Regions from separate parts of the Homo sapiens genome. Here all the other regions are linked to region 5. Evidence: fine-mapped expression QTL. A gene starts in region 5. Each other region holds a variant in brackets. All regions are shown on one strand. Distances are from middle to middle.

What was found. PIP is the estimated chance that this variant, and not a neighbour inherited with it, causes the effect.
Region 1: its variant is the best candidate, but not a certain one, in a credible set for the expression of CCR5AS in blood mononuclear cells (TOPMed, PIP 0.51).
Region 2: its variant is the best candidate, but not a certain one, in a credible set for the expression of CCR5AS in whole blood (INTERVAL, PIP 0.84).
Region 3: its variant is the best candidate, but not a certain one, in a credible set for the expression of CCR5AS in monocytes after Pam3CSK4 (Quach 2016, PIP 0.69).
Region 4: its variant is the best candidate, but not a certain one, in a credible set for the expression of CCR5AS in whole blood (INTERVAL, PIP 0.53).

The regions. Positions count from the first base shown.
Region 1 is chr3:46,457,364-46,462,291 of GRCh38, forward strand. It overlaps LTF (lactotransferrin), which reads right to left. Exons shown (of 17, transcript NM_002343.6): 2 at 2,293-2,456. Among named protein-coding and RNA genes, the nearest start is that of LTF, 5.1 kb to the right of the region's middle. The variant T/C (reference allele first, on the strand shown) is at 2,360.
Region 2 is chr3:46,157,244-46,162,171 of GRCh38, forward strand. No RefSeq gene overlaps it. Among named protein-coding and RNA genes, the nearest start is that of CCR1, 49 kb to the right of the region's middle. The variant A/C (reference allele first, on the strand shown) is at 2,088.
Region 3 is chr3:46,246,765-46,251,692 of GRCh38, forward strand. All of the region lies in intron 1 of CCR3 (C-C motif chemokine receptor 3), which reads left to right. Among named protein-coding and RNA genes, the nearest start is that of CCR3, 6.8 kb to the left of the region's middle. The variant C/T (reference allele first, on the strand shown) is at 2,512.
Region 4 is chr3:46,330,431-46,335,358 of GRCh38, forward strand. No RefSeq gene overlaps it. Among named protein-coding and RNA genes, the nearest start is that of CCR2, 21 kb to the right of the region's middle. The variant T/G (reference allele first, on the strand shown) is at 2,352.
Region 5 is chr3:46,404,718-46,409,645 of GRCh38, forward strand. CCR5AS (CCR5 antisense RNA) reads right to left here and starts at 2,349. Exons shown (of 4, transcript NR_125406.2): 1 at 2,180-2,349. It overlaps CCRL2 (C-C motif chemokine receptor like 2), which reads left to right and starts at 2,542. Exons shown (of 2, transcript NM_003965.5): 1 at 2,542-2,785; 2 at 3,351-4,806. The coding sequence starts at 3,363. The coding sequence ends at 4,397.

The DNA of each region.
Region 1 (4,928 bases), 53 kb after region 5:
TTCTAACTGTTTCCTGTGAAGACTGTATTTTCATGAATATCTTTGTCCTCAGTGTTTTTCCTTGTGACCACTTGTGTCCTTGGGTAGGCAGCTGAGGGTGGAATCCCCCAGATGAGGAGCACGTTTCCCCCTGTGACCCGGGCTGCCGTTGCCATTCTGCTTCCAGAAGACTTATAATACCAATTCAGAATGGCGCTGACCGTGAGGACCAGCTTCACTCTTGAATCACCAGCAGGGCAGGCTATCATTCTATTAGCTGTTATTACTATAGAAAATGTGAGTACTAACAAATCGCTCAGGTCTGATTAGTAAGGGGAACATCTCACAAGTATTTTTTATTAATTATGAATTCCCTCTTACTGGTAACTCTGTTCATATCATTTTTCTTCTATGATTCTACATTTTTTCCAATTTGGGTTATTCTTTTATTTATTTATTTTTTCGAGCGGAGTCACCCAGGCTGGAGTGCAGTGGTACCATCTCAGCTCACTGCAACCTCCACCTCCCGGGTTAAAGCGATTCTCTTGCCTCAGCCTCCTGAGTAGCTGGGACTACAGGCGTGTGCCACCATGCCTGGCTAATTTTTTTTTTTTTGTATGTTTAGTAGAGATGGGGTTTCACCATCTTAGCCAGGATGGTCTTGATCTCCTGACCTCGTGATCCACCTGCCTTGACCTCCCAAAGTGCTGGGATTACAGATGTGAGCCACCACGCCCGGCCTTGAGTTATTCTTTTATAGAGTGTAAATAGTAATCATGTGTCAGAGCTGGCGCATATTCATTCATTCCAGTCCTTTCTAATTTTTTTATTTAAATATTTTCTATGGGCTATGAATTACATTTTCTGTATTTTAGAATATCTGTTTGTTTCGTGATTTAGATCATCATTTAAGAGATTTCTATTTCCTCTACAGTTCTGCTAGTTAACCTGCCCCCTAGTTTTTCAATAATACAAGTTTTATTTTTAACCATTTAATCTATCTCAACTTTATTTGAATGAATGGTATGTAGTACTGATTTCAAACAGGGATCTTATTTTCCGAGATCAGACGAGATCAGACGCGTTCAGCGTGGTATGGCCTTGGACAGGATCTTATTTTAAAAGGCAGATTTTGTGGCTTCTTTCACATATATTCAGATTGAGTAGGTTAGAATAGAGCCTAGGAATCTGCATTTTAAACAAGCAAGAGATGCTGGTGCTGGTTTTTTGTTTTTGTTTTTTGTTTTTTGAGATGGAGTCTCGCTCTTGTCGCCCAGGCTGGAGTGCAATAGCATGATCTTGGCTCACTGCAACCTCCCCCTCCCGGGTTCAAGTGATTCTCCTGCCTCAGCCTTGTAAGTAGCTGGGAATACAGGCATGTGCCACCACACCCAGCTAATTTTTGTATTTTTAGTAGAGGCAGGGTTTCACCATGTTGGCCATCCTGGTTTTGAACTACTGACCTCAGGTGATCCTCCCACCTCGGCCTCCAAAGTGCTGAAATTACGGGCGTGAGCCACCGCGCCCAGCCACTGGTACTGTTTGTATGCAGGTAATAGTTGTAAAATAATAGCCTAAAACATTGATTAAACTAGATTTTTCCCTAAGTGCTATTCTAATAACTCCATTGTATTTATAAGATAATCCTATGAAGTTGCCTCGGGAACTTTTATGCAAATTATTCACTCTGCTGGAGTTGAGTACACATGATTATGGCACATGGCAGGTACACAGAATATATTTGTTGAATGAATGAGTAAAAATCATTTCAGTAGATCTTACATCTCAAAAAATAAAAGGAATCAGAAATCATATACAAGTCATGATACCCTTTTCTCTCTCTCTGAAAGTGTCTTGGACAAAAGTCTTTCTAACACCCAGCACCCTGGCAGGCCCTGCCCCAGCCATGTGATGTGGCAACGGTGACCAGGACAAGCTTCTTTCTCACAGGGTTTAGAGGTCATGACTCTTTTGGAGGATTTCCCTCTCTGAGTAACTTTGCTTTTTGCTGATCCTATGTATTCATCAAATACAACTGATTACATTTCATTTTGGAACAGTTGTTATTAATGAATAACAGTTGTTATTATAGTTTATGTGGAGGCTCCAGGTTCCTCACACATGGTCTCTTGACTTAAGCTCCTTCCTTTCTGCTCTGAAAATAGCACAGTTCCCTGTGAGAGAGGACGGCTCCCCACTTCGTTGCCCAACAGGTGAAGCAGAGGAAGTAAGGAGAGCTCGTGTTCTATCTTTTTCCATTTCTCTCTCCCTTCCATTCAGCTTGGTCCCAACCAACACCCGGCATTGACTCACCGCAATGGCCTGGATACACTGGATGGGGGAGTCTCTCTTTATGCAGCTGACAGGAGGGCCACGCACT[T/C]TTCTCATATTCCTTTGCCATTGGAAGCATTTTGTGGCCTCGGGTTGGGATACGGCGCACCACTGAACACTCCTCCTACGGCCAGCCAGACACAGTCCTGGGAGAGAGGGGCCAAGGAGTAAGGATTCAACCACTGACTGAGGGCGTGACCACCGCACCCTCTGATGGAGTTTTCCAGACTCCTCCCTCTCTCTCGGCTGCCCTCCTTCCCTCTCCATTTCATGGCTATGTCCAGCCATTCTCCACAAGTGGAGGCATCTTGCTGGACTAATAGGATCTCTGCATTGGCTAGAGGTCTGTGGTTCTCAATAAATTAAAGGAGAAAGTCCCTCTAGATTATTTTCATTCCTATGACTTTGACATGTTTCCTACCACTTAAAAAATGATGGTGATCCCCCAGATCAGTTATGGAATTCTTCTACCAGCTTTGCCCACTTTGAACCTGGAAGGTAGGCAGGAAAGGAGTCATTGCTCCTGTTTTACTGATGTGGAAATTGGCTCCTAAGGAGGCTGAGTGACTCGCCACTCAGCAGTGCAGAGCCCAGCTGAGAATCCACGTCTCTCTAGATTGTTTTGTGCATAAATCTCTTCCCAGGGAATGCCAAGAGAACAGGGGAAAATATACCTGAGTCGGTTGGTAGCTGAGGTAAATGGTAAGTCAGTGTCAATGGGGACAAATCAGTTGGTTGGTGTGCCTGAGCTACCACCATTCACTCTGCACAGAAAGACTGGTGCTCCTGTTGAGCCTGCTTTTTTTGCTCAAATACTGGTTCTTCTTTTGAGCCTGCTTTTGTTGCTCAAATCCATGTAATTAGGGAGGAAGATGCATTGAATTTACTCACCTGGTTGCCTGATAAAAGGCATCCACAAAAAACCTGCAATGAACATCATACTAAAATGGTGAAAGACTGACTGCTTTCCACCTAAGATCAGGAATGATGAGAGAGTGTCCACACTCAACTCTTCTATTCAACAGTACTAGAGATTCTAGTCACAGCAATAAGGCAAGAAAAGAAATGAGACACCCATATTGGAAAGAAAGAAGTAAAACTGACTTTACTTTCAGATAACATGATCTTCTATGTAGAAAATACTGAAGAATCTACAAAGTACTATTAGAATTAATAAACAAGTACAGCCAGGCCACAGGATACAAGATCAATATACAAAAATTGATCATATTTTTGCATACAGCACAGAACAATCTAAAAATGAAATTAAGAACATAATGCTAGATAGTATAACATCAAAAAGGATTTAGTACATGACGGGTAAATGATAAGAACAGACATTTTACCAAAGAAGATATATGAATGGACAATAAGCACATGAAAAGTGCTCAATATCATTAGTCAAAAATGCAAATTGAAAATGCAACGAAATATCATTTCACAGCCACTGAACAGGTTATAATAGCTAAAACAGACAATGACACATATCGATGAGGATGTGGAGAAGTGGAAACCCTCATACATTGCTGAGAATGTAAAATGACCAGCCACTTTGTAAAACAGGTTGGCAGCTTCTCAAAATGTGAAGCACAGAGTTCCAATAGGACCCAACAATTGCACTTCTAGGCATATAGCCAGAAGAAATATTATAAGAACCTATCATACATAAATGCTTGTGCATGAATATTCATAGCAGTGTTATTTAGAATAGTAGAAAACTGGAAACAACCTAAATGTCCAATAACTGGTGAATGTACATCCATTCAATGGAATATTACTCAGCAGTGAAAAGAACTACTGGCATGCCCCACAACATGAACGAGCCTCAGTTATGCTCAGTGAAGGAAGCCAGACACAAGAGACCACATGCTGTATGATTCCATTTGAATGAAATGTCCAGAAAAGGCAAATTTATGGAGACAAGAAAATAGATTAGTGGTTGTCTGATGCTGGGGTAGAAATGAGGATTAACTATAAACAGGCATGAGGGACCTTTACTGGGGGGGATAAAAGTGTTCTAAAACAGATTTATGGTGATAGTTGCACACTCGGTAAGGTTACTGAAACTCATTGAATTGTACGCAAATAGGTGATTTTTTATGATATGGAAAATGTACCTCAGTAAAGCTGTTACCAAAAACTAAAACAAAAAACAAACAAACAAAAAAACAAAATAAACACACAGTTGTAAAAGCCCTCTGCCCTTTGGATGTGCTATGGGGTAGAATGTTCAGCCTCTGCTGTCTCCTGTTTCTGAGCCATCCCCTTATGGCGAGAGCCACCCATGGCCCTTGGGTGGGCAAGAGGCCTGTAGCTCCCTGGCTGAGTCTGCAGAGGTTTGGGGACACCTAGCTGCCATACTCCCCCTTCATCCACCCTCATCCCGGGGAAATCCCAGGGAATATAATCTTGCCTTGGAAGCCTTTATAGAACTATCCCACACTGAGAATTAACCCAATCAGATGCAGCCATTTGTGACCCAGTGAGCATTAACTGGATGCCTGCTGTACAAACAGCACTGTGTGTCACGCAAGGAATGTGTAAGCGGACAGGACCAGATTTCACTTCTCACTGGAGAGGCAAAAATCCAAAAAGAGGAAGCTAAGAATGGTGGATGT
Region 2 (4,928 bases), 250 kb before region 5:
GCCATCTGGTAGGCTCCCGTGTGTGTTGTTCACCTCTATGTATTCATGTGTTCTCATCATTTGGCTCCCACTTGTAAGTTAGAATGTGTGGTATTTGGTTTTCTCTTCCTGAATTAGTTTGCTAAGGATAAGGGCCTCTAGCTCCATCCATTCCTTGCAAAGGACATGATCTCATTCCCTTTTATAACTGCATAGTATTCCATGGTATACATGTACTAGATTTTCTTTATCCAGTCTATCATTAATGGGCATTTAGGTTGATTTCATGTCTTTGCTAGTGTGACTAGTGCTACAATGAACATATGCATGCATGTGTCTTTATAATAGGGAAAGATTTATATTCCTCTGGGTATATACCCACTAATGGGATTGCTGGGTTGAATGGTATTTCTGCCTCTAGGTCTTTGAGAAATCACCACACTGTCTTCCACAATGGCTGAGCTAATTTACACTCCCACCAACAGTATAAAAGCATTCCTTTTTCTCCACAGGCTCAGCAGCATCTGTTGTTTTTTGACTTTTTAATAATAGCCATTCTGACTGGTATGAGATGGTATCTCATTATGGTTTTGATTTGCATTTCTCTAATAATCAGTGATGTTGAACTTTTTTTCATATGTTTGTTGGCTGCATGTATGTCTTCTTTTGAGAAGTGTCTGTTCATGTCCTTTGCCCATTTTTAATGGGGTTGTTCGTTCTTTTCTTGTAAATTTGTTTAAGTTCCTTATAGATGCTGTATATTGGACCTTTGTCAGATGCATAGATGGCAAAAGTTTTCTCCCATTCTGTAGATTGTCTGTTTACTCTATTGATAGTTTCTTTTGCTATGCAGAAGCTCTTTAGTTTAATTAGATCCCATTTGTAAATTTTTGCTTTTGCTGTAATTGCTTTTGGCATTTTTGTCATGAAATCCTTCCCTGTGCCTATATCCTGAATGGTATTGCGTAGGTTTTCTTCTAGGGCTTTTATAGTTTTGGGTTTTATGTCAAAGACATTTAAGTTTAAAAGCATTTAGGTCTTTAATCTATCTTGAGTTGATTTTTGTATATGGTGTAAAGAAGGGTCCAGCCTCAATTTTCTGTATATGGCTAGCCAGTTCTCCCACCATTTATTAAATAAGGAATCCTTTCCCCATTGCTTGTTTTTGTTAGGTTTGTCAAAGATCGGATGGTTGTAGGTGTGTGGTATTATTTCTGGGCTCTCTATTCTGTTCCATTGATCTATGTATCTGTTCTTGTACCAGTACTATGCTGTTTTGGTTACTGTAGCCCTTTAGTATAGTTTGAAGCTGGGTAGCATGGTGTCTCCAGCTTTGTTCCTTTTGCTTAGGATTGCCTTGCCTATTTGGGCTCTTTTTGGGTTCCATGTGAATTTTAAGATAGTTTTTTCGAATTCTGTGAAGAAAGTCAATGGTAGTTTAATGGGAATAGCATTGAATCTATAAATTGCTTTGGGCAGTATGGCCATTTTTATAATATTGATTCTTCCTATCTATGAGCATGAAATGTTTTTCCATTTGTGTCATCCCTGATTGCTTTGAGCAGTGGTTTGTAGTTTTCCTTGCAGAGATCCTTCACTTCCCCTGTTAGCTATATTCTTAGGTATTTTATTCTTTTTGTGGCAATTGTGAATGGAAGTTCATTCATGATTTGGCTCTGTGTTTTGCCTGTTGTTGATGTATAGGGATGCTAGCAATTTTTGCACATTGATTTTTATATCCTGAGACATTGCTGAAGTTGCTTATCGGCTTAAGGAGGTTTTGGGATGAGACAATGGGGTTTCTTAGCTACAGGATCATGTCATCTGCAAACAAAGATAATTTGACTTCCTTTCTTCCTATCTGAATACTCTTTATTTCCTTCTGTTGCCTGATTGCTCTGGCCAGAACTTCTCATACTATATTCAATAGGAGTGATGAGAGGGGGCATCTTTTTCTTGTGCTGCTTTTCAAGAGGAATGCTTCTAGCTTTTGCCCATTTGGTATGATATTGGCTGTAGGTCTGTCATATATGGTATGTTCTTATCATTTTGAGGTATATTCTTTTTTTTGGAGATGGAGTCTCGCTCTGTCACCCACGCTGGAGTGC[A/C]GTGGCACAATCTCCGCTCACTGCAACCTTCATCTCCTGGGTTCAAGCAATTCTCCTGCCTCAGCCTCCTGAGTAGCTGGGACTACAGGCATATGCCACAACTGCTGGCTAATTTTTTGTATTTTTAGTAGAGATGGGGTTTCACCATGTTGCCCAGGCTGGTCTTAAACTCCTGAGCTCAGGCAATCTGCCTGCCTTGGCCTCCCAAAGTGCTAGGATTACAAGCATGAGCTACTGTGCCTGGCCGTCTTTAGTTCTGTTTATGTGATGAATCACATTTATTGATTTGTGTATGTTGAACCAACCTTGCATCTCAGGGACGGAGCCTACTTGATCATGGTGGTTAAGTTTTTTGATGTACTGCTAGATTTGGCTTGCCAGTGTTTTGTTGAGGTATTGTCAAGTGTATTGGCCTGAAGTTTTCTTTTTTTGTTGTATCTCTGCTAGGTTTTGGTGTCAGGACGATGCTGGCCTTATAGAATAAGTTAAGGAGGAGTCCTTCCTTTTCGATTTTTTGGAATAATTTCAGTAGGAATGGTACCAGCTCTTCTTTCTACATCTGGTATAATTCAGCTGTGAATACTTCTGGTCCTGGGCCTTTTTTGGTTGGTAGACTATTACTGCTTCAATTTCAGAACTCGTTATTGGTCTGTTCAGGGATTCAATTTCTTCCTGGTTTGGTCTTGGGAGGGTGTACGTGTTCAGGAATTTATTCATTTATTCTAAGTTTTGTAGTTTGTGGGCATATAGGTGTTCTTAGTAGTCTCTTATGGTTATTTGTATTTCTGTGGGGTCAGTTGTAATATCTCCTTTATCATTTCTGATTGTGCTTATTTGAATCTTTTATCTTCTTTATTAGCCTAGGTAGTGGTCTATTTTATTAATTTTTTCAAAAAGCCAGCTACTTTATTTGTTGATCTTTTGAAGGTTTTTTTGTGTCTCTATCTCCTTCAGTTCAGCTCTGATCTTGGTTATTTCTTGTCTTCTGCTACATTTGGGGTTTGTTTTCTCTTGGTTCTCTAGTTCCTTTAGTTGTGATGTTAGGTTATTAACTTGAGATCTTTCTAGATTTTTGATGTGGGTATTTAGTGTTATAAATTTCCCTCTTAACAGTGCCTTAGCTGTGTCCCAGAGATTCTAGTATATTGTATCTTTGTTCTCATTAGTTTCAAATAACTTCTTGATTTCTGCTTTAATTTTACTTTTTACCCAAGAGTCATTCAGGAGCAGGTTGTTCAATTTCCATGTACTTGCATGGTTTTGAGTAGATTTCTTAGTCTTGAGTTCTAATTTGATTGCACTGTGGTACAGGAGATTCATTTGTTATTATTTCAGTTCTTTTGCATTTGCTGAGGAGTGTTTTACTTCCTGATTATTTGATCAATTTTAGAGTAAGTGCCATGTGGAGATGAGACAATAATATATTCTGTTGTTTTTTGGTGGAGGGTTCTGTAGATATTTATCACGTCCATTTGATCCATAGCTGAGTTCAGGTACTGAATATCTTTTGTTAATTTTCTGTCTCAATGATCTGTCTAATATTGTCAGTGGGGTGTTAAAGTGTCCCACAGTTATTGTGTGGGAATCTAAGTCTCTTTCAAGGTCTCTAAGAACTTGCTTTATGAATCTGAGTGCTCCTGTGTTGGGTACATATCTATTTAGGACAGTTAGCTGTTTTTGTTGAATTGAACCCTTTACCATTATGTAATACCCTTCTTTGTCTTTTTAAATCTTTGTTAGTTTAAAGTCAATTTGTCAAAAACTAGACTTCAGCCCTGGCTTTTTGTGTTTTCCATTTGCTTGGTAAATTTTTCTCCATCCCTTTATTCTGAGCCTATGTATGTCTTTGCATGTGAGATGGGTCTCTTAAAGACAGCATACCAATTCCTTATCCAGTTCGCCACTCTGTGTCTTTTAATTGGGGCATTTAGCCCATTTACATTTAAGGTTAAAGATAATATTGTTAAATGTGAATTTGATCCTGTCATCATAATGCTAGCTGGTTATTTTGCAGACTGGTTTATGTGGTTGCTTCCTAGTGTCACCTGTCTGTGTATTTCAGTGTGTTTTTGCAGTGGCTGGTAACAATTTTTCCTTTCCATGTTTAGTGCTTCCTTCAGGAGCTCTTTTAAGGCAGGTCTGGTGGTAATGAATTCTCTCAGCATTTGCTTGTCTGAAAAGAATCTTATTTCTCTTTTGCTTATGAAGCTTAGTTTGGCCACATATGAAATTCTGGGTTGGAATTTCTTTTCTTTAAGAATGTTGAATATTGGCCTCCAATCTCTTCTGGCTTACAGGGTTTCCACTGAGAGGTTTGCTGTTAGTCTGATGGGCTTCCCTTTGTAGGTGATCTGGCATTTCTCTCTGGCTGCCCTTAACATTTTTTTTTTTTTTTTTTTTTTTTTTCATTTTGACCTTGGAGAATTTTATGATTGTGTCTTGGGGATAATCTTCTTGTGGAGATGGAGTTCTCTGCGTTTCCTGAATTTGAATGTTGGCCTGTCTATCTAGGTTGGGGAAATTCCCCTGGATGATATCCTGAAATATGTTTCCCAAATTAGTTTCATTCTCTCTGTCTCTTTCAGGTATCTCAATCAACCATAGATTCGGTCTCTTTTTACATAATCCCATATTTATTGGAGATTTTGTTCATTCCTTTTCACTCTTTTTTTCTCTATTCTTGCCTGGCTGTCTTATTTCAGAAAGTCAGTCTTCAGGCTCTGAGATTCTTTCCTCTGCTTGGCCTAATCTGCTTTTAATACTTGTGATTGCATTGTGAAGTTCTTGTAGTATGTTTTTCAGCTCTACCAGGTTTGTTATGTTCCTCTCTATACTGGTTAT
Region 3 (4,928 bases), 160 kb before region 5:
TAGTGTTGAAGTGTTGGGGTGGCGAAAATTTTTGGAGGGTGGTATGGAGAGAGAATGGGCGATGTTTCCCAGGGCTGCTTCAAGCGGGATTAGGGGCGGCGTGGGAACCTAGAGTGGGAGAGATTAAGCTGAAGGGAGGTCTTGTGGTAAGGGGTGATATTGTGGGGATGTTAGAAGAAACATTTGTCGTATAGAATGATTGGTGATGGCCTGGATATGGTTTTGTATGAATTGAAAAACTAAATGGAATAAGAGAAGGAGAAAAACAGGTATAAAAGGTCTAAGAATCGGGAGGACCTAGGACATCTGATTAGAGAGTGCCTAAGGAGATTCAGCATAGTCCTGCCAGCAAAGATTATTTATTTACTTCAAGAGTTAAGAGCGGCGGTTTGGGGATAGCACGAGGAGATATCAGCTGTGATGGCTTGAAAAAACAGTGTAAACTGGCAGTGTAAACAAGAGCAGGGCATGTATGAGTAGTTGAGAACAGAGAACAGGAGTATGACTAGATAGAAAATAGTAGGGATGACAAGTTTTTTTGGGGCACAGTCTAAGGTGGTCCGGTGTCTGGAATGAGACTGGGGGCCTAATGAAAAGGAGCATCTATACAGGAACTTAAATGGGCTGTACCTTATAGCATTCCGAGGACAGGTCTGACTTCTGAGAAGGGAAAGTGGTGAAAGTATTGTCCAGTTCTTTTTAAGTTGGTGGCTGAGCTTGGTGAGGTGTGTTTTTAAAAGACCTTTAGTCCGTTCTACTTTTCTTGAAGACAGAGGACTATAAGGGATATAAAGGTTTCACTGAATACTAAGAGCCTGAAAAACTGCTTGGCTGATTTGACTAATAAAGGCTGGTCTGTTATCAGACTGTATAGAGGTGGGAAGGCTAAACTGAGGAATTATGTCTGACAGAAGGGAAGAAATGACTGCGGTGCCCTTCTCAGACCCTGTAGGAAAGGCCTCTACCTATCTAGTGAAAGTGTCTACTTAGACTAAGAGGTATTTTAGTTTTTGTGACTCAGGGCATGTTGAGTAAAGCTAATTTGCCAGTCCTGGGCAGGGGCAAATCCTCGAGCTTGATGTGTAGGGAAGGGAGGGGGCCTGAATAATCCTTGAGGAGTAGTAGAATAGCACATAGAATAGCAGATGGAACACTGAGAAGTGATTTCCTTGAGGATAGATTTCTACAATGGAAAGGAAATGAGAGGTTCTAAGAGGCAGGCTAGTGGCTTGTACTATAGCATAGCCTGCCTTTGCTGGTGTGTGGTGATTAGGCCTGGTGGAACTGCCATCAATAAATCAAGCATGATCAGGGTGAGGAACAGGAAAGAAGGAGATATGGGGAAATGGGGTGAATGTCAGGTGGATCAGAGAGATACAGTCATGAGGGTCAGGTGTGGTTTCTGGAATAATGTGGGAGGCTGGACTGAAGTCCGGGCCAGGAATGATGGTAATTGTGGGAGACTTAACAAAGAGTGAGTACAGCTGAAGGAGCCAAGGAGCAGAAAGTATATGCATCAGGTATGAGGAAGAAAATAGATTTTGGAAGTTATGAGAAATGTAGAGAGTGAGTTGAGCATAGTTTGTGATTTTTAGGGCCTCTAAAAGTATTAAAGCAGTGGCAGCTGCTGCATGCAGACATGAGGGCTAGGCTAAAACAGTAAGATCAAGTTGTTTGGACAGAAAGGCTACAGGGTGCAGTCCTGGCTCTTGTGTAAGAATTCTGACTGCACTAACCATGCCTAGGAAGGAAAGGAGTTGTTGTTTTGTAAGGGATTGAGGTTTGGGAGATTAATCGGACAGGATCAGCAGGGAGAGCACGTGTGTTTTTATGAGAATTATGCCGAGATAGGTAACAGATGACGATGAAATTTGGGCTTGACTGAAGTAATGGGGGCTGTCTGTGAAACCTTGTGGCAGTACAGCCCAGGTAATTTGCTGAGCCTAATGGGTGTCAGGGTCAGTCTAAGTGAAAGCAAAGAGAGGCTGGGATGAAGGGTGCAAAGGAATAGTAAAGAAAGCATGTTTGAGATCCAGAACAGAATAATGGGTAGTAGAGGGAGGTATTGAGGATAGGAGGTTATATGGGTTTGGCCCCACGGGGTGGATAGGCAAAACAATTTGGTTGATAAGGTGCAGATTCTGAACTAACTTGTAAGGCTTGTCTGGTTTTAGGACAGGTAAAATGGGGGAATGGTAAGGAGAGTTTATAGGCTTTAAAAGGCCATGCCTTAGCAGGCGAGTGATAACAGGCTTTAATCCTTTTAAAGCGTGCTGTGGGATGGGATCTTGGCATTGAGCAGGGTAAGGGTGATTAGGTTTTAACGAGATGGTAAGGGGAGCATGATTGGTCGCCAAGGAGGGAGTAGAGGTATCTTATACTTGTGGGTTAAGGTGGGGGAATACAAGAAGAGGACGCAAAGGAGGCTTTGGATTGGGAAGAAGGGCAGCAATGAGATGCGGCTATAGTCCAGGAATAGTCAGGGAAGCAGATAATTTGGTTAAAATATCT[C/T]GGCCTAATAAGGGAACTGGGCAGGTGGGGATAACTAAAAAAGAGTGCATAAAAGAGTATTGTCTAAGTTGGCACCAGAGTTGGGGAGTTTTAAGAGGTTTAGAAGCCTGGGCATCAATACCCACAACAGTTATGGAGGCAAGGGAAACAGGCTCTTGAAAAGAAGGTAATGTGGAGTGGGTAGCCTCTGTATTGATTAAGAAGGGGATGGACTTACCCTCCACTGTGAGAGTTACCTAAAGCTCGGCATCTGTGATGGTCTATGGGGCTTCCGAGGCGATCAGGCTGTGTCAGTCTTCAGCCGCTAAGCCAAGAAGGAGTCAGTCAGAGAGCCTTGGGCCAGAGTTCCAGGGGCTCTGGGAGTGGCTGCCAGGTGAGTTGAACAGTCTGATTTCCAGTGGGGTCCCACACAGATGGGGGAATCCTGGGCTGCAGGCATTCCTTGGCCTGGTGGTCAGATTTCTGGCACTTGTAGCAAGCTCCTCGGGGAGGAGGTTCTGGAGGAACGCCTGGCCACTGCGGTTCAGGTGTTTGGAAGTTCTTGTGTGCTGGGGATGTGGCTGGGGTTTGTCTCACAGTGGAGGCAGGGAATTGCAACTTTTTTTTTTTATCATTGTACACCTTGAAGGTGAGGTTAATTAAGTCCTGTTGTGGGGTGTGAGGGCCAGATTCTAATTTTTGGAGTTTTATTTAATGTCGGGAGCAGATTGGGTAATAAAATGTATATTGAGAATAAGATGGCCTTTTGACCTTTTAGGGTCTAGGGCTGTAAAGCGTCTCAGGGTTGCTGCCGAATGAGCCATGAACTGGGCTGGGTTTTTATATTTGATGAAAAAGAGCCTAAACGCTTCTGATTTGGGATAAAGAAAAAGGAGCATTAACCTTGACTATGCCTTTGGCTCCAGGCACCTTTTTAAGAGTAAATTGCTGGGCAGGTGGGGAAGGGCTAGTGATGGAACGAAACTGTAAGCCGGACCAGGTGTGAGGAGGTGAGGCGATAAAAAGATTACAGGGTGGAGGAGTGGAGGCTGAGGAAGAATTGGGACCTAGCTTGGCCTGGCAAGGAGGGGAGAGGTCAGATGGGTCTGTAGAAAAGGAAGATTAGAAAGACTCAGCGATGCTTGGGGTTGGGACTGAGGGGACAGGCGGGAGGGAAACAAGGAAGATTTGGGACAAGTTGCACTGGGCACAGAGACTAGGAAGGGACTGATGTGTAAAAGAATGCCTGGACATCAGGCACCTCAGACCATTTGCCTATTTTAAGACAAGAATTATTTAGATCTTGTAGGATGGAGAAATCGAAAGTGCCATTTTCTGGCCATTTAGAGCCATTGTCAAGTTTGTATTGGAGCCAAGCAGTGTTGCAGAAGAAAATAAGGCGTTTAGGTTTTAGGACAGGTGTAAGTTGAGGTTTTAAGTTCTTGAGGACACAGGCTAAAGGAGAAGAAGGAGGAATGGAGGGTGGAATTTTGCCTATAGTGAAGGAGGCAAACCCAGAGAAAAGAGAGAGTAGAGACATGGAGGGAAGGGGTTCAGGGGTTCTTACCCTCCAGAAAAGCGGGAAGGGGGGTTGGGGCATGGAAATAAGGGATTGGGGCACAGAGATAAGAGGTCTGGGTGCGGAAATAAGGGATTGGGGCACAGAGATAAGAGGTCAGGGTGAGGAAATAAGGGATTGGGGTGCAGAGATAAGAGGTTGGGGTGCAGAAATAAGGGATTGGGGGTTCTTGCCCCCTAGAAAAGTGGGACTTGCCACTAAGAGTGAAGGAGAAGGGGTTGAGGGGTACTTGCCCCTCCCCCAGAAAAGCAGAGAAGGGGTAGAGACATGGAGAGAAGGGGTTGAGGTACTTGCCCCTTTCCCAGAAAAGTGGGACTTGCTGCTAAGGGTGAAGGACCAAGGCAGGCGTCCCTGCGTGGTCTGACACCCTTGAAACGTGGGTGAATAATCAGAGAGGCGTCCCTGCAATGATTAAACACCAAGGGAAGGCTGCCTTCCCAGTCTGTGACCGGCGCCGGAGTTTTGGGTCCATGGATAAAAGGTGTCTCCTTTGTCTCTACCAGAAAATGAAAGGAATTGAAATTAAGAGAAGGGAGAGATTGAAGTGTGGCGCCAAGATTGAAAGGAGAAAGAGGTTGAGGGATAGTGAGGGAGGTTGGAGAAGAGAGTAAAAAGAGGCCGCTTACTGGATTTGAAGTTGGTGAGATGTTTCTTGGGCTGGTCGGTCTGAGGACCTGAGGTCGTAGGTGGATCTTTCTCACGGAGCAAAGAACAGGAGGACAGGGGATTGATCTCCCAAGGGAGGTCCCACAATCCGAGTCACGGCACCAAATTTCATGTGCATCCTTGTGAAGAGACCACCAAACAGGCTTTGTGTGAGCAACATGGCTGTTTATTTCACCTGAGTGCAGGCGGGCTG
Region 4 (4,928 bases), 74 kb before region 5:
CAAGTTGGCACCAGAGTTGGGGAGTTTTAAGAGGTTTAGCAGCCTGACCATCAATAACCACAACAGTTATGGAGGCAAGGGAAACAGGCCCTTGAAAGGAAAGTAATATGGAGTGGGTAGCCTCCATATTGATTAAGAAAGGGACAGACTTACCCTCCACTGTAAGAGTTACCCAAAGTGTCTGTGATGATCCAGGAGGCTTCTGAGGTGATCAGGCAGTGTCAGTCTTCAGCTGCTAAGCTGAGAAGATCTGGGAAGGAGTCAGTCAGAGAGCCCTGGGCCAGAGTTCCAGGGGCTCTGGGAGTGGCTGACGGGCAAGTTGGACAGTCCGATTTCCAATGCGGTCCCACACAGATGGGATACAGTTTAGGAGGAATCCTGGGCTGTAGGCATTCCTTGGCCCAGTGGCCAGATTTCTAGCACTTGAAGCAAGATCCTGGAGGAATGCCTGACCACAGTGGTTTAGGTGTTTTGAAGTTCTTGTGTGCTGGAGATGTGGCTGAGGTTTTTCTCACAGCAGAGGCAAGTAATTGCAACTCAGAAATACATTGCCACTTGGCTGTCTCTTCTCTATTATTGTACACCTTGAAGGTGAGGTTAATTAAGTCCTGTTGTGGGGTTTGAGGGCCATAATCTAATTTTTGAAGCTTTTTTAATGTTGGGAGTGGATTGGGTAATAAAATGCATATTGAGAGTAAGACAGCCTTCTGGCCCCTCTGAACCTAGGGCAGTAAAATGTCTAAGAGTTGTTGCCAAAGGGACCATGGACTGGGCTGCGTTTTCATATTTGATGAAAAAAAAAGAGCCTAAATGCTAACTAATTTGGGAGAGGTCAGATAAAGTAAAAGGAACATTAATCTTGACTATGCCTTCAGCTCTTGCCACCTCTCTAAGAGGAAATTGTTGGGCAAGTGGAGGAGTGCTAGTCGTGGAATGAAACCATAAGCTGGACTGGGTGTGAGGAGGGGAGGTGATAGAAGGATTACAGCGTAGGGGAGTAGAGGCTGAGGAAGAATTGGGACCTGGCTCAGCCTGGTGAGGAGTGGCCTGGTGAGGAGCAGCCTGGGGAGGAGGAGAGAGGTTAGATGGGTTCGTAGAAAAGAAGGATTCAAAGGACTCGGAGCTTGGTGAGGAGACTGAAGGAACAGACAGGAGAGAAAGAAGAAAGATTTGGGACAAGTCGCATTGGGAGCAGAGACTAGGAAGGGAGTGATGTGTAAAGAATGCCTGGACATCAGGCACCTCAGACCATTTGCCCATTTTATGACAAAAATTATCTAAGTCTTGTAGGGTGGAGAAATCAAAAGTGCCATTTTCTGGCCATTTGGAACAATTATCGAGTTTGTATTGGGGCCAAATGGTGTTGCAGAAGAAAATAAGATGCTTAGGTTTTAGGTCAGGTGAGAGTTGAAGAGGTTTTAGGTTTTTTAGAACACAGGCTAAGGCAGAAGAAGGAGGAATGGAGGGTGGAAGGCTGCCCATAATAAAAAGGTAAGTTTAGAGAAAAGAGAGGATAGAGACACAGAGAGAGGGGGTGGTGGTACTCATCAGCCAGGGGAGGTGGTACTTGCCACCAAGGTGATGGATCAAGGCAGTCATCCCCACGGTGATCAGACACCTCTGAAATGTGGGTGAATAATCAGGCAGGTGTCCCTGCAGTGATTAGACACCAAGGGGAGACTGTCTTCCCGAGTCCGTGACCGGTGCTGGAGTTTTGAGTTCACAGATAAAACACATCTCCTCTGTCTCTACCAGAAAGGGAAAGGAACTGAAATTAAGGAAGGGAGAGATTGAAGGGTGGAGAGATAGCAAGAGAGTTGGAAAAGAGAATAAAAAGAGGCCACTTACTCAATTTAAAATTGGTGAGATGTTCCTTGGGCTGATCTGAGGACCCAAGGTTGTAGGTGGATCTCCTCACGGAATGAGGGTGAGGACAGGGGACTGGTCTCCAGAAGGAGTTCCCGAGTCCTGGATCTTCAGCACCAAATGTCATGTGCATCCATGTGAAGAGAGTCCACCAACAGGCTTTGTGTTATCAATAAAGCTTTTTAATCACCTTGGTGCAGGTGGGCTGAGTCTGAAAAAGGAGTCAGCAAAGAGAGATAGGGGTGGGTCAGTTTTATAAGATTTGGGTAGGTAGTGGAAAGTTACAGTTAGAGGTGGTTATCTCTTGAGGGCAGAGGTGGGGGTCACAAGGTGCTGGGTGGGGAAATCCTGAGACTTATCATCCAGGGAAGGAGTGTCACAAGGTCGATTGATCAGTTGGGGTGGGGCAGGAACAAATCGCATGGTGGAATGTCATCAGTTAAGGCAGGAACTCACTATTTCACTTCTTTTGTGGTTCTTCAGTT[T/G]CTTCAGGCCATCTGGATGTACACGTGAAGGTTACGGGGATATATGATGGCTTAGCTTGGGCTCAGAGGCCTGACACTAACCTCCTGCAGAAGCCACAAAAGGTTATTACACATAAACCATGGTTTCCACAGGCAGGCACTCTTGATGTGGAAAATTGGGATAGAGCAGGATTAAAACAAGCTCATCAAAAAGGTCTTAAAGTTGATTCTTCAGTTTTCTCCACTTGGAGTTTAGTTCATACTGTACTTCTGCCATTATCTCCTTATTATTCTGCGGAACAGCAGGCTGAATCTAAAAATTGGAAAGAATTTGTTGTCCTACTCACAGCTCCAATTGAATATAAAAAACAGGAGAGGGAGGATAAAAATTGGCCTATACCGCCTCCTCCAGATGCAGAAACATCTGTACCATCTCCTTCAGTGGCAGAAATAGAGATCCCAGTACAAAGAATTTTATGCTCTGCTGTCATAGCTGGAGAGCCCTTAGGACCTTGTGCTTTTCCTATTTCTGTAAGGCCTGATCCAAATAATCCACAGCAGTTTATTCATGAACACTCTCCACTAGAATTTAAGTTGTTGAAGGAATTAAAAACTAGTGTGGTCAATAATGGAGTACAAAGCCAATGGTTCCTGGAGGAAGGAATGCTAGACATAGAACTTTGGGAGCAAGTGGGGAGAAATCTTAAACAACACCAGGCACAAAGGCATCAGGTCCCAGTAAAATCTTTTATGTTAGGGGCTTTGAGTAGAGCAGCCCTGGTTGTTACACACAAAAGAGCCTAAAAAGGGAAAGGAGGAGGAAATGTCACCTGCCTTATCACCTCCCCTTCCCTCAGTGCCAATATCACTGGGCCAAAATAACAAAGAGGAAATGGAGGTCTTACCTAAGCTTCCTCCTCCAATAGATAGGAAGAAGGACAGAGGATACGCTACAGCTATCAGTCCCTGTCTTAAGCAGGCAGCATTAGAAGGAGAGCTCTTAGCCGGGTGCAGTGGCTCATGCCTATAATCCCAGCACTTTGGGAGGCCGAGGCAGGCAGATCATGAGGTCAGGAGATCCAGACCATCCTAGCTAACATGGTGAAACCCCGTCTCCACTAAAAATACAAAAAATTAGCCAGGCATGTTGGTGGGCACCTGTAGCCCCAGCTACTTGGGAGGCTGAGGCAGGAGAATGGCATGAACCCAGGAGGTGGAGCTTGGAGCTTTCAGTGACCTGAGATTGCACCACTGCACTACAGCCTGGGCAACAGAGCAAGACTCCATCTAAAAAAAGAAGAAGAAGGAGAGCTCTTAACCTGCTCAGTAATGCAAAATCGGCAAGGCAATCAGGTGTATGTTTATAAAAAGATAAGAAAAAGGCATTAGAAGCCAAAACCACGTGGCCAAGCAGGCAGTGGGCAGGAGAAAATGCTCAGAGGCAGAAAAGCTCACAGCGACAAAGCCAACAAGGTCTGCCCAGGACGGCAGCATCCCTCTGGCAAAGGAGCAAGGGAGCAGCACAGACACAGGCAAAGCCTAAACAAGTACAATGTGGCCACCTCCCAGGACCTGCACCACTGCCCTCTGGCTCTGTGGGCAGCCCATTGCAAAATTTCATGTGTTACATCTCAGGCTATGATTCTCTGCTAAGATGTAAGTAAAATGTAAGAATTTGAAAAGCATCTTTTCTAATAATGGCCACTATTGTCATCTCTCTCCTATCCCTGATGTAGCTTTCCAAATTCAATTTAAGTAAAACAGTAACCTTTGAAGGGAAAGAGATTACAGAGGGCCCATGAATTAGTTGAAGAGTAATTAAAAGCTAGGCATGTAAAACCACACATTACGCTTTAAAGAAGAAATTTAAACCTAATTAAATGATATTTGTTAAATTAGAAGGTAAAAATGTTGTGCCCTGTTGGGAACAGGCCCCCAAATCTGGCCATAAACTGGCCCCAAAACAGGCCATAAACAAAATCTCTGCAGCACCATGACATGTTTGTGATGGCCATGATGCCCACCTTGAAGGTTGTTGGTTTACTGGAATGAGGGCAAGGAACACCTGGCCCACCCAGGGCAGAAAATTCCTTAAAGGCATTCCCAAACCACTAATGATAGCATGAGCAATCTGTGCCTTAAGGACATGTTCCTGCTGCAGACAGCTAGCCAGAGCCCATCCCTTTGTTTTGGCCCATCCCTTTGTTTCCCATAAGGAATGCTTTCAGTTAATCTATGATCTATAGAAACGATGCTTATCACTGGCTTGCTGTCAATAAATATGGGAGTAAAACTCTGTTCAGGGCTTTCAGCTCAGAAAGCCATAAGCCCCCTGATTTCCCACTTCCCACCCTTTATTTCTGTGTGTGTGTCTTGAATTCCTCTAGCGCCTCTGGGTTATGGTCTCCACAACCACGCTGGTCTTGGCAGTGCCCTTCTCAGAAAGTGAAAAAGAGTTGTATGTAAGTGTAGTGAAAACATAAGCATGAATCACTGTCTTAACCCACTGATTAGATAGTCTTTGATTTGTACTTGCTAAAAGAGTCCTAAATTGAGTTCCTCAGCTAGTGAGTCACTGTTTTCAAGACTGTTTGCCAG
Region 5 (4,928 bases):
TTCGCCTTCTCCATAGCACTTCTCTCCTACTAATCTACAATTTACTTGAGCTCTGTGAAGGTCAGGATTTTTGCCTATTTTGTCCATTGGTGCATCCCCAGCACCTGGAACAGAGCTAGGCACAGGCTAGGCACTCTAGAAATACTTGCTGAATAATTGAATTAAGTAAATGAGTGATCTACACGTAGTGGGGAATGAGAGTATACAGTGATAGTTCCTTCGACTAAAACTGGGGTCAAATTATAGTGATAAAGAGGAACTCAGACCTTCAGAGGTAAGCTTTGTGGACCACTTGCCAAGGCTGCAGAATGTGATGTCGTTTCACAAACAAGGAGGCCCTATTATGGCTTCAGATATGAGAATAATAAAGAGAACTTTCCTTTCGCCTCAACTGCAGCCTTCTAAACTCTTCCTTCCTTCCTATGTAGAAGTTTCAAGGACCTCATGGCCTGAGTGTGGATAGGCAGAATGCTGGGAATCAGGCAAAAATAAAATAATACTGAAAGTGAAGGTCATGCTAATATTAGTAAGCCAGGGTGATCCTGAATTTACAAAACATTTTTCTTTGGGAAATTTCACACCTCACATGATTCTGTGTTTTTACTTGGGAAATTTCACATCTCACATGACTCTGTGACATGCGGTACATGAGGTGCCTGACTGCTGTTTTTGTCCTCTACTAATGAGGAAGAGTGTGCGTACTCCCAGCGTTTTGCAAGTTTCAAAGTCTGACTTGACTTTCCTTCCTTTTCCTGGAACTGATCCATGAGTATCGAGAGTAAAGCTGCCCGCACCTACTCATTCAAGATCCTGAGTGTCCTGCCCAGCTGCAGGAGGTGGAGAGACCCAGGAGGAGGGGCCACTGCTGATCCCAGGCTGTAGGGGGTGGGAAGAGTGTCCCAGGGCACCATGACCCCCACTCACTCACTCACAGGAGACCCACACAAGAGAGGAGAGGGCACTTACAGCTTAGGTTCCCACCAGCACCAACTCCTCTGCCATCAAACATCATTGTGTTTCTCTTTCTGCCTTGTCTGTCGGCACACGTGGAGTTAAATTTAATGCTCAATCACATATTTGTCTGGGCTCTTTCTGTGTTTATTTTTCTCTTAATAGTTCTCTCTCCTCCCTTCCTCTCCCCGCCCCTCCTCCTCCTTCTTCTTTTTTTTTTCCAGAGACAGTGTCTCGCTCTGCCACCCAGGCCAGAGTGCAGAGTGGCATGATCATGGCTCACCGCAGCCTCCAACTCCTGGGCTCACGTGAACATCCCACCTTGGCCTCTGGAATGTCTGGGATTACAGGCACTTGCCACTGCATCTGGCTAATTTTTATATTGTTTATAGATCCGGGATCTCACTATGTTGCCCAGGCTGGCCTCAAACTCCTGGGCTCAAGCGACCCTCCCACCTCATACTTCTGAGTAGCTGGGGCTGTAGGAATGCGCCTCAGTGCCAGGCTAGTTTCTTAATTTTCTATTTCTATTTTGACAGGTACAAATTTTGTATTCAATCCTACCTCAGACACATCTTTGGTGGGAAAAGGATGTCATTTAATCAATATATAAATTCTAAGCAAATAGGTCTGATCCCCAAATTAGGTTAGTCACAGCTGCTGAGTCGTTGACCCAAGAGAAGCTCATCTAGATTTTTTCATTATTTTCAAGTTCCTCTTCTCGGTTCGTCCTTCTTCCAGACCGTGCCCTCCCCGTCCCACTCTCTTCCCACAGCCTCCCCTCCCCACAGCCTCCTCCCACCATTCCAAATCTGGGCTGTTCTCTCAATTTCCTTCTCTCTGGACTCAAACCTACCCTAGCCCCCAGCCTCAGTTTGGGGTTAAACTTGTCCTCCTCACATTCTCTCCCACCCAACTTGATGTCGCCTCTGTGTCATCACCACGGGATTTTCCTCCTCTGGGTTCTCCTTTTCCGAGTGGGGTCAGCTCCCCCATGAGTCACAGCACCAATCACTTCTGGCTGCTTGCAAACCCCTTTGCTTTCCTCAGTGTTGACACCCAGGGCAGCCCTATGCTCACTGCCGCTGAGACCCCACCTCTGCCCCTGGCCTTTTCCCAGCTGACATCACCCTGTGGCTTCCATTTTCCTAAAATTCTCTTTTGAGGCCTCAGTCTTAACCAAAGCACACAGTGCCCCTCAAAAATGACAATAAAAACCCAAACACACCGTGACTGTCATGGCAGGTTCCTGGTCCCCGTATTGAATCAGCGGGTGGGTTTCTGCGAACACTGGTGAGAGGCCGCATTAGAGGGTCAGGACCCTCAGGTCTGGACTCGTGGTCACCACATACCTTCCTCCCTGCTGACAGTAGCTGGTACCTGTTACCTACTCAGAGTGTCACATGCCACAAGCCAGAGCGTCTTGGCAGTTCTCAGCACCTTGACATCACTTCCTTGCTACCACTCAGAGCGGCAGTGACACAGTTCCCTTATCTCAGAAGGCCAGAAGACGGCTGTCAAAGGTCACAGGGAAATCAAAGGCGGGGTACAGGGCCAGAGGGAGGAGGAAACAACTTCCCGGTTGCTTTCAGACGCTTCAGAGATCCTCTGGAGGCCTGGGGGAGCTTTTGAGTACTTTATTTCAGTTGGTCCCTGAGCTCGGTGAGTGGGGCGGGTAGAGCCACCAGGGGAATCAACAGTGGTTTCTCGTGCCCCTCAGGGTCAGGAGCAGTCTGATCAAAAGGAGGGCATCCACTGTCCGGGGCCATTCCCACAGCTCCCGGATGCTGGGTCTGGAGGCTGCGCCCTTCCCCTGCAGGAGCTCAGCCCAGTGGTAAGTCATCTGTGTGTCATCTATGTATTTAACCCCTTATGGCCATGTTGATGCTGAGCATGGTTTCACTTTTGCAAACATTTATTTATACCCTTCGAGAGAAAAACGTCTCAGCTGTCACAGGAAGCTGCTTCGGGGGGTGAGCAAACTTTTTAAAATGCAGAAATTATGATCTACACCCGTTTCTTAAAAGTAAGCCATCGTACTTGGTTCTCTTTAATTATATATTTTCTTACATATTGTGTTCATGTAGGCAAGTCCTGTTTCTGCTAAAAGAAGGTAAGTTCTACCAAGGCGGTGTCATGCCAGCTTTATTTCCCGTGGCACCTGGCACACTGCTAAGCACTTACATGCTTAACAACTAGATTGGGAATGGTGCTGCTCTGGGGAAGTGGGCACACGTTAAAGAAATGTTTATTTCAGTCTTCTGAAATAGGGAATTACTCTGGCTAAAATGTAGCTCCAGAAAGGGAAAGTGGGGCTGTATGAATCCAGGTCCAGTTTGTTGTTTCCTCCAGGATAAGGCAGCTGTCGGAGGGGAAAATCATCTCCCATTTCTCCACAGGGCAGTCTGAAGATGGCCAATTACACGCTGGCACCAGAGGATGAATATGATGTCCTCATAGAAGGTGAACTGGAGAGCGATGAGGCAGAGCAATGTGACAAGTATGACGCCCAGGCACTCTCAGCCCAGCTGGTGCCATCACTCTGCTCTGCTGTGTTTGTGATCGGTGTCCTGGACAATCTCCTGGTTGTGCTTATCCTGGTAAAATATAAAGGACTCAAACGCGTGGAAAATATCTATCTTCTAAACTTGGCAGTTTCTAACTTGTGTTTCTTGCTTACCCTGCCCTTCTGGGCTCATGCTGGGGGCGATCCCATGTGTAAAATTCTCATTGGACTGTACTTCGTGGGCCTGTACAGTGAGACATTTTTCAATTGCCTTCTGACTGTGCAAAGGTACCTAGTGTTTTTGCACAAGGGAAACTTTTTCTCAGCCAGGAGGAGGGTGCCCTGTGGCATCATTACAAGTGTCCTGGCATGGGTAACAGCCATTCTGGCCACTTTGCCTGAATTCGTGGTTTATAAACCTCAGATGGAAGACCAGAAATACAAGTGTGCATTTAGCAGAACTCCCTTCCTGCCAGCTGATGAGACATTCTGGAAGCATTTTCTGACTTTAAAAATGAACATTTCGGTTCTTGTCCTCCCCCTATTTATTTTTACATTTCTCTATGTGCAAATGAGAAAAACACTAAGGTTCAGGGAGCAGAGGTATAGCCTTTTCAAGCTTGTTTTTGCCATAATGGTAGTCTTCCTTCTGATGTGGGCGCCCTACAATATTGCATTTTTCCTGTCCACTTTCAAAGAACACTTCTCCCTGAGTGACTGCAAGAGCAGCTACAATCTGGACAAAAGTGTTCACATCACTAAACTCATCGCCACCACCCACTGCTGCATCAACCCTCTCCTGTATGCGTTTCTTGATGGGACATTTAGCAAATACCTCTGCCGCTGTTTCCATCTGCGTAGTAACACCCCACTTCAACCCAGGGGGCAGTCTGCACAAGGCACATCGAGGGAAGAACCTGACCATTCCACCGAAGTGTAAACTAGCATCCACCAAATGCAAGAAGAATAAACATGGATTTTCATCTTTCTGCATTATTTCATGTAAATTTTCTACACATTTGTATACAAAATCGGATACAGGAAGAAAAGGGAGAGGTGAGCTAACATTTGCTAAGCACTGAATTTGTCTCAGGCACCGTGCAAGGCTCTTTACAAACGTGAGCTCCTTCGCCTCCTACCACTTGTCCATAGTGTGGATAGGACTAGTCTCATTTCTCTGAGAAGAAAACTAAGGCGCGGAAATTTGTCTAAGATCACATAACTAGGAAGTGGCAGAACTGATTCTCCAGCCCTGGTAGCATTTGCTCAGAGCCTACGCTTGGTCCAGAACATCAAACTCCAAACCCTGGGGACAAACGACATGAAATAAATGTATTTTAAAACATCTATTTAATGTATTTTAAAATAATTTGTAAGTTGATTTTAAAACCAATTTAACTACATTCCAAATTATAGACAGCCCATTTATATGGGAGTAACTTTTCAGGCTCATTGCCTCGCCGGTGATGAG